2 separate regions of the Homo sapiens genome follow, and region 2 is linked to region 1. The links come from fine-mapping of genetic effects on gene expression. A gene starts in region 1. The other region holds a variant in brackets. All regions are shown on one strand. Distances are between the middles of the regions.

Region 1 (5,261 bases):
CTACAGACGTGCGCCACCACGTCCGGCTAATTTTTGTATTTTCAGTAGAGACAGGGTTTCACCATGTTCACCAGACTGGTCTTGAACTCCTGACCTCAGGTGATCCACGCCCCTCACCTCCCAAAGTGCTGGGATTACAGGTGTGAGCCACTGTGCCCAGCCTTCTATTCCTATGGATCCTGTGCAGCAGAGAGTAGGTGGTTAATTGAACTTAACCAGGGTTTGGCCTCTGCTAGACAAAAGCAATGGAGGAAGAGAAAGGTGAAGAAGTGGCCGGGTATGGTGTCTCATGTTTGTAATCCTAGCATTTTGGGAGGCAGAGGTGGGTGGATTACCCGAGCTCAGGAGTTTGAGACCAGCCTGGGCAACATGGTGAAACCCCATCTCCACTAAAATACAAAAAATTAGCTGGGCATGGTGGTGGGTGCCTGTAGTCCCAGCTACTTGGGAGGCTGAGGCAGGAGAATTGCTTGAACCCAGGAGGCACAGATTGCAGTGAGATTGCACACTGCACTCCAGCCTGGGCGACAGACTACATCTAAAAAAAAAAAAAAAAAAAAAAAAAAAAAGAAAGGTGAAGAAGTTAAGCATATTTGCAAAGGGAAGATTGTAAAGTTGGACCATGGGCTTTAGGTTGGGTTTTGATGGAAACGAGTAGGCTAGGGAAATGACTGATATTAAGAAAGTAAGAAGGGCCAATGGATTTGAGGTCTTGCTGGGGATCAAAGTAAATAGATGGTGGGGGAATATTAATGCACAAGAGCTGAACGGATGGGAATTAGTGGTCAGACAGGGTAAGCAGAACTGCTATGTATAGGAAGCTGCTAGATTAGTGAAGGGTATTCTTACATGGTTAGCTCTCACCCACTGCTTATTTTCTTTTGGAGTAATTAAGTTCTCCAGTGTATTATCCCAGTGATGGAGTTATCATGAACTGTGCAGGGGAGTACACAGATTTTCCAATAATCCATCTAGCTCAGCTGTAGATGAGAGCCTATTATATTATTCAAAGGATTCTACATGAGAATTCCAGTAAAGAAGGTCTTAGCATGTAACATTAATAAGCAGTTTTAAACTTTTTTTTTTTTTTTTAAAGACAGGGTCTCATTTTGTCACCCAGGATGGAGTACAGTGGTGAGATCATAGCTCACTGCATTCTCAACCTCCCTGGGCTCAGGTGATCCTCTCACCTCAGCCTCCTGAGTAGCTAGGAACACAGGCGCATGCCACCACACCCAGCTAATATTTTTTTAGACGAGTTGTTGCCATGTTGTCCAGGTTGGTCTGAAACTCCTGAGCTCAAGCAATCTGTCTGCTTCCGTCTCCCGAAGTGCTGGGATTACAGGCATAAAATCAGTGTGCCTGACCCTAAACTAATTTTTGAAAAACAAACAAAAAAGAGAAAAAAAGTCACTTTTATCACCCCATGTCGCTGAGAATGTTTCCCATATTGTCTGAAAATAAAGCACCTCATGTTTAGAAAGATGGAAAAGTATGTTCTTTGTAAGTGCATTATCACTAGTGATTACTCATATATTAGCTGTAGGCATGACCGTGCTGCTGCACCATCGAGAGACACACACACACATAATAAAAAACCAAATATATTTGGGATAGAAATATCATATTACATTATATAATGCATTATACTTTACAAAACATTTTCCTATTCATTAACTGATTTGCAAATAATATTTAATTTTGTGCTGCTTTTCAAAAGATCTGGAAGTGCTTTCCAAAAAGCACTCCATTCATTGCTTCATAGGCTTCATTCAGTGGTCTGTTGGTTTTTTCTTTTTTTTTTTTTTTCCCTCCCAGCAAGGTTAGTTCCATTATTCCCTCTCCTTCCCTATTCAAGCAATATTAAAGGCTTCTCTTTTTCTACCAGGGTGTTAAGTTGAGCCTCTTGGCTGTGAATATTGGCAGAATGGTAGGACGCAGAAGCTGTGATTTCTCGAGTTAAATAATGACATCGTGCCTGGAGGTCAGTTCAAAGACCACGTCGTTTTGGCACGATATTTATCTGTGACCTCATTTTCTTCTTAATCTATAAAACAGAGGCGTTAATGACAATTTACTTCATAAATCGATTATCAGAATAGGACTTAAAATTCCTTAGGAGGTCAAGCACGGGCTTTAGAAAGTGCAACATGTGAACATCAGCCTATTAAAAATTGTTTTGATCTAGAAAAGACAACCTCAAACTTCTCTTGCCAATTCAAATTCCAGCTTCTTCCTACCCTTCTTTTCTAAATCTTTGCTTTCTCTTTGGCTGAAATTAGAAGCAGGAAGGGAGCAGGGAAAGGAAACCTGGGACTGGAAAAGGGCAGGGAAGCCCAACAGACCGGTTAAGCACGTCTGAGATTCTCTAGTCGGCTTCAACCCAGGGGCTAAGAGGCAGAGTCAGCGTTTCCAGCAGAAACTAGCATATAGCTCAGGCTCAATACCACGTCGAGTCAGGAGCCATCGCCGGAAGGGTCACACCGACACATTTTACAAAACAGCCTAAGGCGTCCCCTCCTCCCGCCTGGGTCAGGGAGGGACACCCCCAGGGGTCCTCGCCCGCCTCCCACTAGCGGGCACGCGGTCGTCGCGCGGGCGCGGCCCTCTGACGGAGCCCAGGCGTGCACTCCGCAGCCTCGGCGTCCCCCAGCTAGCCGGAAGAAGCTGCGGCGACAGCGTCCTGCCGCCTGTCTGTCACGCAGCCGCCCACGTTGCCACCGCTTCCGATTGGTCGCTGGCCTGGACCGGCCCCCTTCAGCCCCGCCTCCCGCGAATGGACAGGCGAGGGGCGGGCCCGCCACCGCCCCGCCCCCCGGCGGCCGCGGGCGGGCCCGCCCATCTGTCAGTTACGGGGGCTGCCCGGCGGGCGGGCTGGAGGCGCTCGCAGGCTGCCTAGTCGTTCGCTCGCTCTCTCTCGCGTGCTCCCTCTCGCCGCCTGTGGGGAAGTCGGGGCCGCCCGAGCGGCCGTCGCCACCGCCTCGCCCCGACCTCCTTCCCGGTCCCCTCCCGGCCCAGTCCCTCCCGCCCGCGCACCCCGAGTAGTGAGTGGCCCCGCGCAGGGTCTGGAGAGTCACCGCGGCGGCGCCGGGTGGTGGTTAAACCATGTTAAGGAGGATTTTACAGAGGGTAAGAGAGTGAAACCGTCTTTCTGGCAGCACGTGAGCGGGACAGCCGGAGCTCGGGGCCGCGGCGCGGGCGCCCCTCCTCAGCGCGGGCTCCTTCCTTCCCTAGGCCCCACAGCCCGGCAGGCGCTTAGGCCTCGGTCGCCCGGCCCGGGGGCGGGGAGGGCGGGTGGGGCCGGCGCGGCGGGGCGGCAGGCAGAGCCCTGGTGGCCCCGCGCGTCCAGGCCTGGCGCCCGCTCCGGCGCGGGGCTCCGTGTGTGCGAGCGGGCTGCGAGCTGGAGGGTGTGGTGCCGGCGCGTTCCTCCCGGGAACCCTGAGTGGGAGTGAAAATGGAGAGTTGGTGCCCGTGGGACGGGCCAGCCGCCGCCTGCCGGGCTGGAGAACGCCCCATGGGAGATTCGGGCGGCTTGCTTCGCCTTTCCCCACCCGCCGCACTCCCCGTGCCCCCCAATTTGACACGATGCGCACCTGCCACACACGGCCCTGCTTTCTCCTTTGGACCACAGTGGAGGGTGGTGTGGTGAGCCCCGGCCTAGCCTGGGCCCAGGCGTGGGACTGACACTGGCACAGTCAGCCGAGAAGGAAGATGTTACTCACTGTTGGAAACTTTTTTTTTAATTAAAAATATGTTTTCTGTGCAAGCCCCACTACCTTATTTTAGCTATCCAAGAATAAATCCGCAGTAAGCTTGATCAAGTGGTATATACACTTAGTTTCTGCCTGTGCTGTCTCTGAAATCTGGAAAACCTTGAGGATAGAAAGATTAGAGCATTAGAAAACTGTAGGTGTATCATTTAAGAATCAGTTACTAGAATAACATAATTCACATCTCTTTTCCTGTAAGAGTTATTGTACCTGTCAACTTAAATTTGTTTTTTTTTTTTGGTATAGCTTTTTTCTTTTCTTTTTGAGGCTGATAGGGTGTAACAAAATGTAAATGATTGAAAAGTAGGTGCCGAGCCTATTAGTTCTTTACCGAGGGAGTAGGATAACTAGTTCAAAGGACAAAAGAAATTAGTGAATTTGTAGGATTCAGCCGAGGAATGTGCGGAAGAGAGTTGAGTCATCCAGTAGATAGGAAGGGAGTGCTCTTGCTTCTGCCTAGCTTTCTCCTGAAAGAATGAAGTCATGTGAAACTTGGTCAGTTATTAGAGGGAGAAATAGTTAACTTCTTTATCTGACAACCTGTGTTGACATTTAATTGTATTTTGCAGTGTTTTGTGAATTTTGAAATCCCGGTAAGCGATGATTTTGGCAGTAACAAGGGCATGTCCTTTACTTTCCCCATCACTTCCTTAGTTCAGCAGTAAAGACATCTGTGCATGATTTACTTTCAGGCTTTAGGAGATTTTTCTTTTATCAGACCTGGAGGAACTGATTACCTCATGTTTCAGATTGTGTTTCTGTCATAGTTCTGCAAGTGAAAATTAGTTTGCCTGTGGTTTGCTTTGAAGTTTACAAATAAAAGTGTTTACTGGTTTAAGGGTAGCTCAGCTGTAGTTATAGATTGGTTTTCAGAAATATGGGATGCTTTCTAGTAATCTTGGTTTAAAGTTAAACATCGAGATTATATGAAGATCATTTTTAATGTTGGTGCATACCTATCAACTGTTAAAGAAGCTTCTGTTGAAACTACAAAAGTGAAATTGATTGTGGTTATTGCAGAGATGTGATATTGAATCATCACTTCTGAATAAGTCAGTTGACAACTGAGTTTCTTAACGTCGGCGCTATTGGCATTTGTGACTGGATAATTCTGCGTTGTGGGAGGCTGCCCTGTGCCTTGTAAGATGTTAGCAGCATCCCTGGCATCTACCCCCACTAGATGCCAGTAGCATTCCCCTATATCCCTTCCCCCTTGTGACAACCAAAAATAGCTCCAGATTTTACCAAATGTCCCCTAGGGGCAAAATTGCCTCTGGTTGAGAATCACTGTGTTAAATGCATTAACTCTTTAGTAGGAAAGTTTGAAGTGTTTCTCACAGTTAAGTACTTAATTTTCTTTTATTCAGTGTATTTATATTGAGTTTCAGTAAATGCCAGGCTTCATGCTAAGGGGTAGGAAACAGTTGATTAAGCTGTGGGTCCTCCCTTTAGAACTCACAGGCTGTTTGGGAGGTGAACATTTAAAAGTAA
Region 2 (5,493 bases), 41 kb before region 1:
TGAGCTATGGCCATGCCACTGCACTCCAGCCTGGGCAACAGAGTGAGAGCCTGTCTTAAATAAATAAATAAATAAATAAAATAACATGGGCTGGGCGCAGTGGCTTACACCTGTAATTCCAACACTTTGGGAGGCCGATCTGGGTGGATCACCTGAGGTCAGGAGTTTGAGAGCAGCCTGGCCAACATGGCAAAACCCCGTCTCTACTAAAAATACAAAAATTAGCTGGGCATGGTGGCGCACGCCTGTACCTGCTACTGGTAGGGGCCGAGGCAGGAGAATCACTTGAATCTGGGAGGTGGAGGTTGCACTGAGCCGAGATTGCGCCACTGCACTCCAGCCTGGGTGACAGAGCAAGACTCCATCTCTCAAAAAAAAAAAAAAAAAAAAAAAAAGCAAGAAAAGAAAAGGTCTTTATAAGAAAAAGGTCCCATCCACTCTTCTGTTCAGGAAGGATTAAATCCCATATACCTTCTAGGAGTGACCCTTAATATCTCACACATTCTTTGAGATATATAAACTTTTTTTTTTTTTTTTTGAGACGGGATCTCAGCCCAGGCTGGAGTACAATGGTGCTATCTCACCTCATTGGAGCCTCGACCTCCCAGGCTCAAGCAATCTTTCCATCTCAGTCCCCCGAGTATCTGGGACTACAGGTGCACACCACCATGCATGGCCAGTTTTTGTATTTTTGTAGAGATGGGGTTTTGCCATGTTGCCCAGGCTGATCTTGAACTCCTGAACTCAAGGAATCCTTTTGTGTTGGCCTCCCTAAGTGCTGGGATTACAGGTGTGAACTCACTGTGCCCCACTGTAACAACTTTTTTTCTTCATTAAGCATCCAGATGTCTTGAGTATTTTGAAGTCTCAAACATCCTCCCCCTACCCCACTCATATGAAGAGCATATGACCCAAATGAAGCCAGAAATTTGAATCTAGAACATAAAGACACACAGATAGAAGACTGGGGTTGATGGACACAGCACTGTGGCTCATGCCTGTAATCCCAATACTTTGGAAGGTTGAGGCAGGAGGATTGCTGGGCAATTTAGCGAAATCCTGTCTCTACAAAAAATAAATTTTAAAAAACTAGCCAGGCGTGGTGGCATGCACCTATAGTCCTAGTTGCTCAAGAAGCTGAGGCAAGAGATTTTCTTGAGCCCAGGAGTTCAGGGATGCAGTGAGGCATGATAGGGTTACTGCACTCCTGTCTGGGCAACAGAGCAAGAGCCTGTCTCAAAAAAAAAAGAAGACTGGATTGAGTCATTGAGTCATTTTCTTGGCAGCATCCAAAATGTACTGATTCAGGAATTTCTGGTACTGAAGCCCCTGGAGATCCCCTAGTCTGGTTCTTTTTGAGCCTGATTTGTTCTTTTTGTTGCTTGAATACTGTGTTTTCTTGTATTATTCCAATCAGTTCTTTATTGCTTAAATTAGTCAGAATCTATGTCTGTTGTTTGCAAGCAAAGGACCATAACTGAGATAAGTGACAATGTGAAAGTGGTGCTGTGTTCTGGGCCAGATTCTTTTGAGCTGAGCCTGCTTGCAGACTGTGGGATGACCCAATGCTCCCACAATTTTCTTTAGTAATTCTGCTGTGCAACCTCTGATCTTACTGTGTACAATATGCTGAAATACCACTTGTCCCTCACTTGGTGCAAAAACATTACATTATGTATTATGTTCACATTTGTTTTTTTCTTATGAGTCTGTGTGGATAAAAGTAGTGGTATTGATGCCCATAAGAAACCATTTTGATCATAAAAGTAAATAACATCCTTCAGTTATAAAGTGACCATTCAAATGATCCAAAATATGCTTCTATTAATTTTGACATTATCATTGAATGAAAGCACATGGCTTTAAAAAAAAACAATTTGTGGCAAAGGATTTTCAGATCCTTAAAGGTAGATTGGAGAAATCTTGCCCTGGGTATTAGAGACTATTGTGATACATCTATTTTTCTTAGTTCACAGACTTCATCTTTCTCCCTGATACCTCAGTGATGATCAGGTCCAGGTTTAACAAATGTGTAGCTGAGCGTCATATGTTTAAAAAATTAACATGCAAGGACATGAGCAGAAAATTCACAAAAAGGGAAGTCCAAATAAATGGTCAATAAATACAGGAAAATATGTTTAGTCTCAGTAGTGAGCAAAGATGTTTAATGTATTAGTCAGGATGGTGTAGATAATGCTGCCATAACGCTCAACCCTAAGTCTCAGTGGCTTACAACAAAGAAGTCATATTTTTTGTTCATACTCATCATGCCTTACTTAGAGTCTTTATTCCATGTTGTTCTATCAAACTGAACAGAGTATGTTTATGTTAATCAATTATGGGACCCAGGCCATTTTCTGAAACATTGTTGGTAATCAATTGCAGAAGTGAAAGAGAACTCTGAAAGGTCTTGCTCAACCCAGAAGTGACACATACCATTGCTATTCACAACTCAATGACCAGACCAGGTCACATGGCCCCGCTTAACCTCAAGGGCCATAAAATTAAATCTCTTTTTTGTTTGTTTTTGTTT[C/T]TGAGACAGAGTCTCGCTCTGTTGCCCAGGCTGGAGTGCAGTGGTGTGATCTCGGCTCACTGCAAACTCAGCCACCCAGGTTCAAGCGATTCTCGTGCCTCAGCCTCCCTAGTAGCTGGGACTACAAGCATGTGCCACCACGCCCAGCTAATTTTTTTTGTATTTTTAGTAGAAAGGGGGTTTTGCCATGTTGCCCAGGCTGGTCTCAAACTCCTGAGCTCAGGCAATCTGCCTGCTTTAGCCTCCCAAAGTGCTAGGATTACAAGTATGAGCCACCATGCCCAGCTCATAAAATTAAATCTTATCATGTGCTTGGGGGGAGCATTAATGACTATAACATACAATCAAAACAATAAGTTATTATTTTTCAGCTACCAGATTGGCAACTTTAAAAAAATAGCTAAAACGTTTTTTAAACAAAAAAGTTAAAATATAGAGACGGGGGCCGGGCGCGGTGGTTCACGCCTGTAATCCCAGCACTTTGGGAGGCCGAGGCAGGTGGATCATGAGGTTATGAGTTCAAGACCAGCCTGGCCAAGATGGTGAAACCCCATCTCTACTAAAACTACAAAAATTAGCTGGGTGCAGTGGCAGGCGCCTGTAATCCCAGCTACTCAGGAGGCTGAGGCAGGAGAATCGCTTGAACCTGGGTGGCGGACGTTGCAGTGAGCGGAGATCACGCCATTGCACTCCAGCCTGGGCAACAAGAGCAAAAACTCTGTCTCAAAAAAAAAAAAAAAAAAAAAAAAAAAAATATATATATATATATATATATATGGAATGAGAGAGAGAGATGGGGTCTCCGTATGTTGCCTAGGCTGATCTGAAACTCCTGGACTCAAGGGATCCTCCCACCTCAGCCTCCCAAAGTGTTGGGATTATAGATGTAAGCCACTGCACCCAGCCCAGCTAAAATCTTGTCTCATCAAATGTGTATAAACATCTATAAATTGGGAATGAAAGTTTATACGTAATTTCTGGGGGCAATTTGACAGTATACACAAATGCATATGCACACACACACACACAGAGTGCATACTCTTTACCCTGCAATTCCATTTCTAGGAATTCAACCTAAGGAGATATTTATACAATTGTGGAAAGATAAGTTTACAAAAGCATTTATTGAAGCATTTTATATAACAGTTGAAAATGGATACAACCCAGCCGGGCGCGGTGGCTCATGCCTGTAATCTCAGCACTTTGGAAGGCCGAGGTGGGTGAATCACCTAAGGTCAGGAGTTCGAGACCAGCCTGGCCAACATGGTGAAACCTCATCTCTACTAAAAATAGAAAAATTAGCCAGGTGTGATGGCGCATGCCTGTAATCCCAGCTACTTGGGAGCCTGAGGCAGGAGAGTCGCTTGAACCCAGGAGGCAGAGGTTGCAGTGAGCTGAGATCACGCCACTGCACTCCAGCCTGGGCGACAGTGAGACTCTGTCTCAAAAAAAAAAAAAAAAAGAAGAAAATGGATACAACCCATAAATGCAACAGTAGAGTAATGACCAAACAGCTTGTGCCATATCTGTTAGATTAAATATTATGGAGCCATTAAAATTATGCTAGCAAAGGCTGAGCATGGTGGCTTACACCTGTAATCCCAGCAGTTTGGGAGGCCGAGGTGAGCAGATCACTCACTTGAGGTCAGGAGTTCAAGACCAGCCTGGCCAAGATGGTGAAACCTCATTTCTACTAAAAATACAAAAATTAGTGCATGGTGGCAGGCACCTGTAATCCCAGCTACTCGGAAGGCTGAAGCAGGAGAAACCCTTGAACAGAGGTCGAGTCGGAAGGCTGAAGCAGGAGAAACCCTTGAACAGAGGTCGAGGTGCCTCAAGAAACCCTTGAGGCAGTGAGCCGAGATCGTGCCACTGCACTCCAGCCACAGCAACAGAGTAAGATGCTGTCACCCCCACAACACACACAAAAAGAATTATGCTAACAAAGTGATATGTTTATTCTATAATTTTAAATGCCAAAGCAGTCTAGCAGTCTATGTGCATTCAGTGTAACTTCTTGCTGCACTCTGCAAGTGCAAGTGAAAAAAAGCACCAAGGAGTTCTCCCTAATTGATTCTTTCCTGATAATTGGAGGTTATCACAATTCATTCAACAGAATCTGTACATTCACAATTAAGAACCTCAACCAGGACTGCCCTTCCATGGGTAACACATTGTGCTATTTTATAGCTCAGCTCTCCACCATCCACAGAAGCTACCCTGGGAGCAAGATGGTGGGCGTTGTCTCTTCACAGAGTGCTTCCACTTTCCTAGAAGCTCATTTATGCTCAAGACTAGGAAATAAATAAAAGTACTGACTCTGTTCTTCACAATCCTTTTTATGGTTGAGTTTTCCTTCCCCAAAGAACCATCTCCTGTTTTCTATGGATTAGCAAAGTGCCCTGATCTTCTCATGCTGATTCATTTCCTCCCTTCCTTCCTGCCTCCCTCCCTCCTTTCCTCCCTCCCTTCCTTTTTCGTTTCCTTCAAAGAAACATTTATGAGCAGTTTAAGTCTCAGGCACTATGTCCAGTGCTAGGAATGCTCCCAATGAACAAGACACTATCTCTGTTCCCATGGAGCATATTATTTCTTGGAGAAAAGAAGGAAAACAGCAATTGCAATATATCCCTGTGGCAAACACTTCTGAAATGGCCCAAATGATCACTGCTTCCTGGTATTCATGTCCTTGTGTGATCCCCCTCTCCTGAGTGTTGACTCAACTTATGACTTGCTATTAACAAATAGAATATGGTAGAGTGATAGGATGTCATTTTGAGATTAGGTAATAAAAAGACTCACTTCCATCATGGGTCCCCACTCCCCAGCGCTTGCTCTGGGGGAAGCAAGCTGCCATGTGCTCCACCAATATGTTACACGACTGGTGTCATTTGTCAGAAAGGGAAGGTAATTGTAAAACTAATCACAACGAAAGCAAAACAGTGTTATTAAATCCTAAT

Evidence for each region.
Region 2: its variant is fine-mapped to the expression of EEA1 in fibroblasts (GTEx, PIP 0.95).

What each region holds. Positions count from the first base shown.
Region 1 is chr12:92,926,911-92,932,171 of GRCh38, reverse strand. It overlaps EEA1 (early endosome antigen 1), which reads left to right and starts at 2,877. Exons shown (of 29, transcript NM_003566.4): 1 at 2,877-3,129. The coding sequence starts at 3,106. RefSeq lists a silencer at 2,408-3,487 and an enhancer at 4,588-4,717.
Region 2 is chr12:92,968,103-92,973,595 of GRCh38, reverse strand. No RefSeq gene overlaps it. Among named protein-coding and RNA genes, the nearest start is that of LINC02413, 20 kb to the left of the region's middle. RefSeq lists enhancers at 2,235-2,284, 2,765-2,834. The variant C/T (reference allele first, on the strand shown) is at 2,534.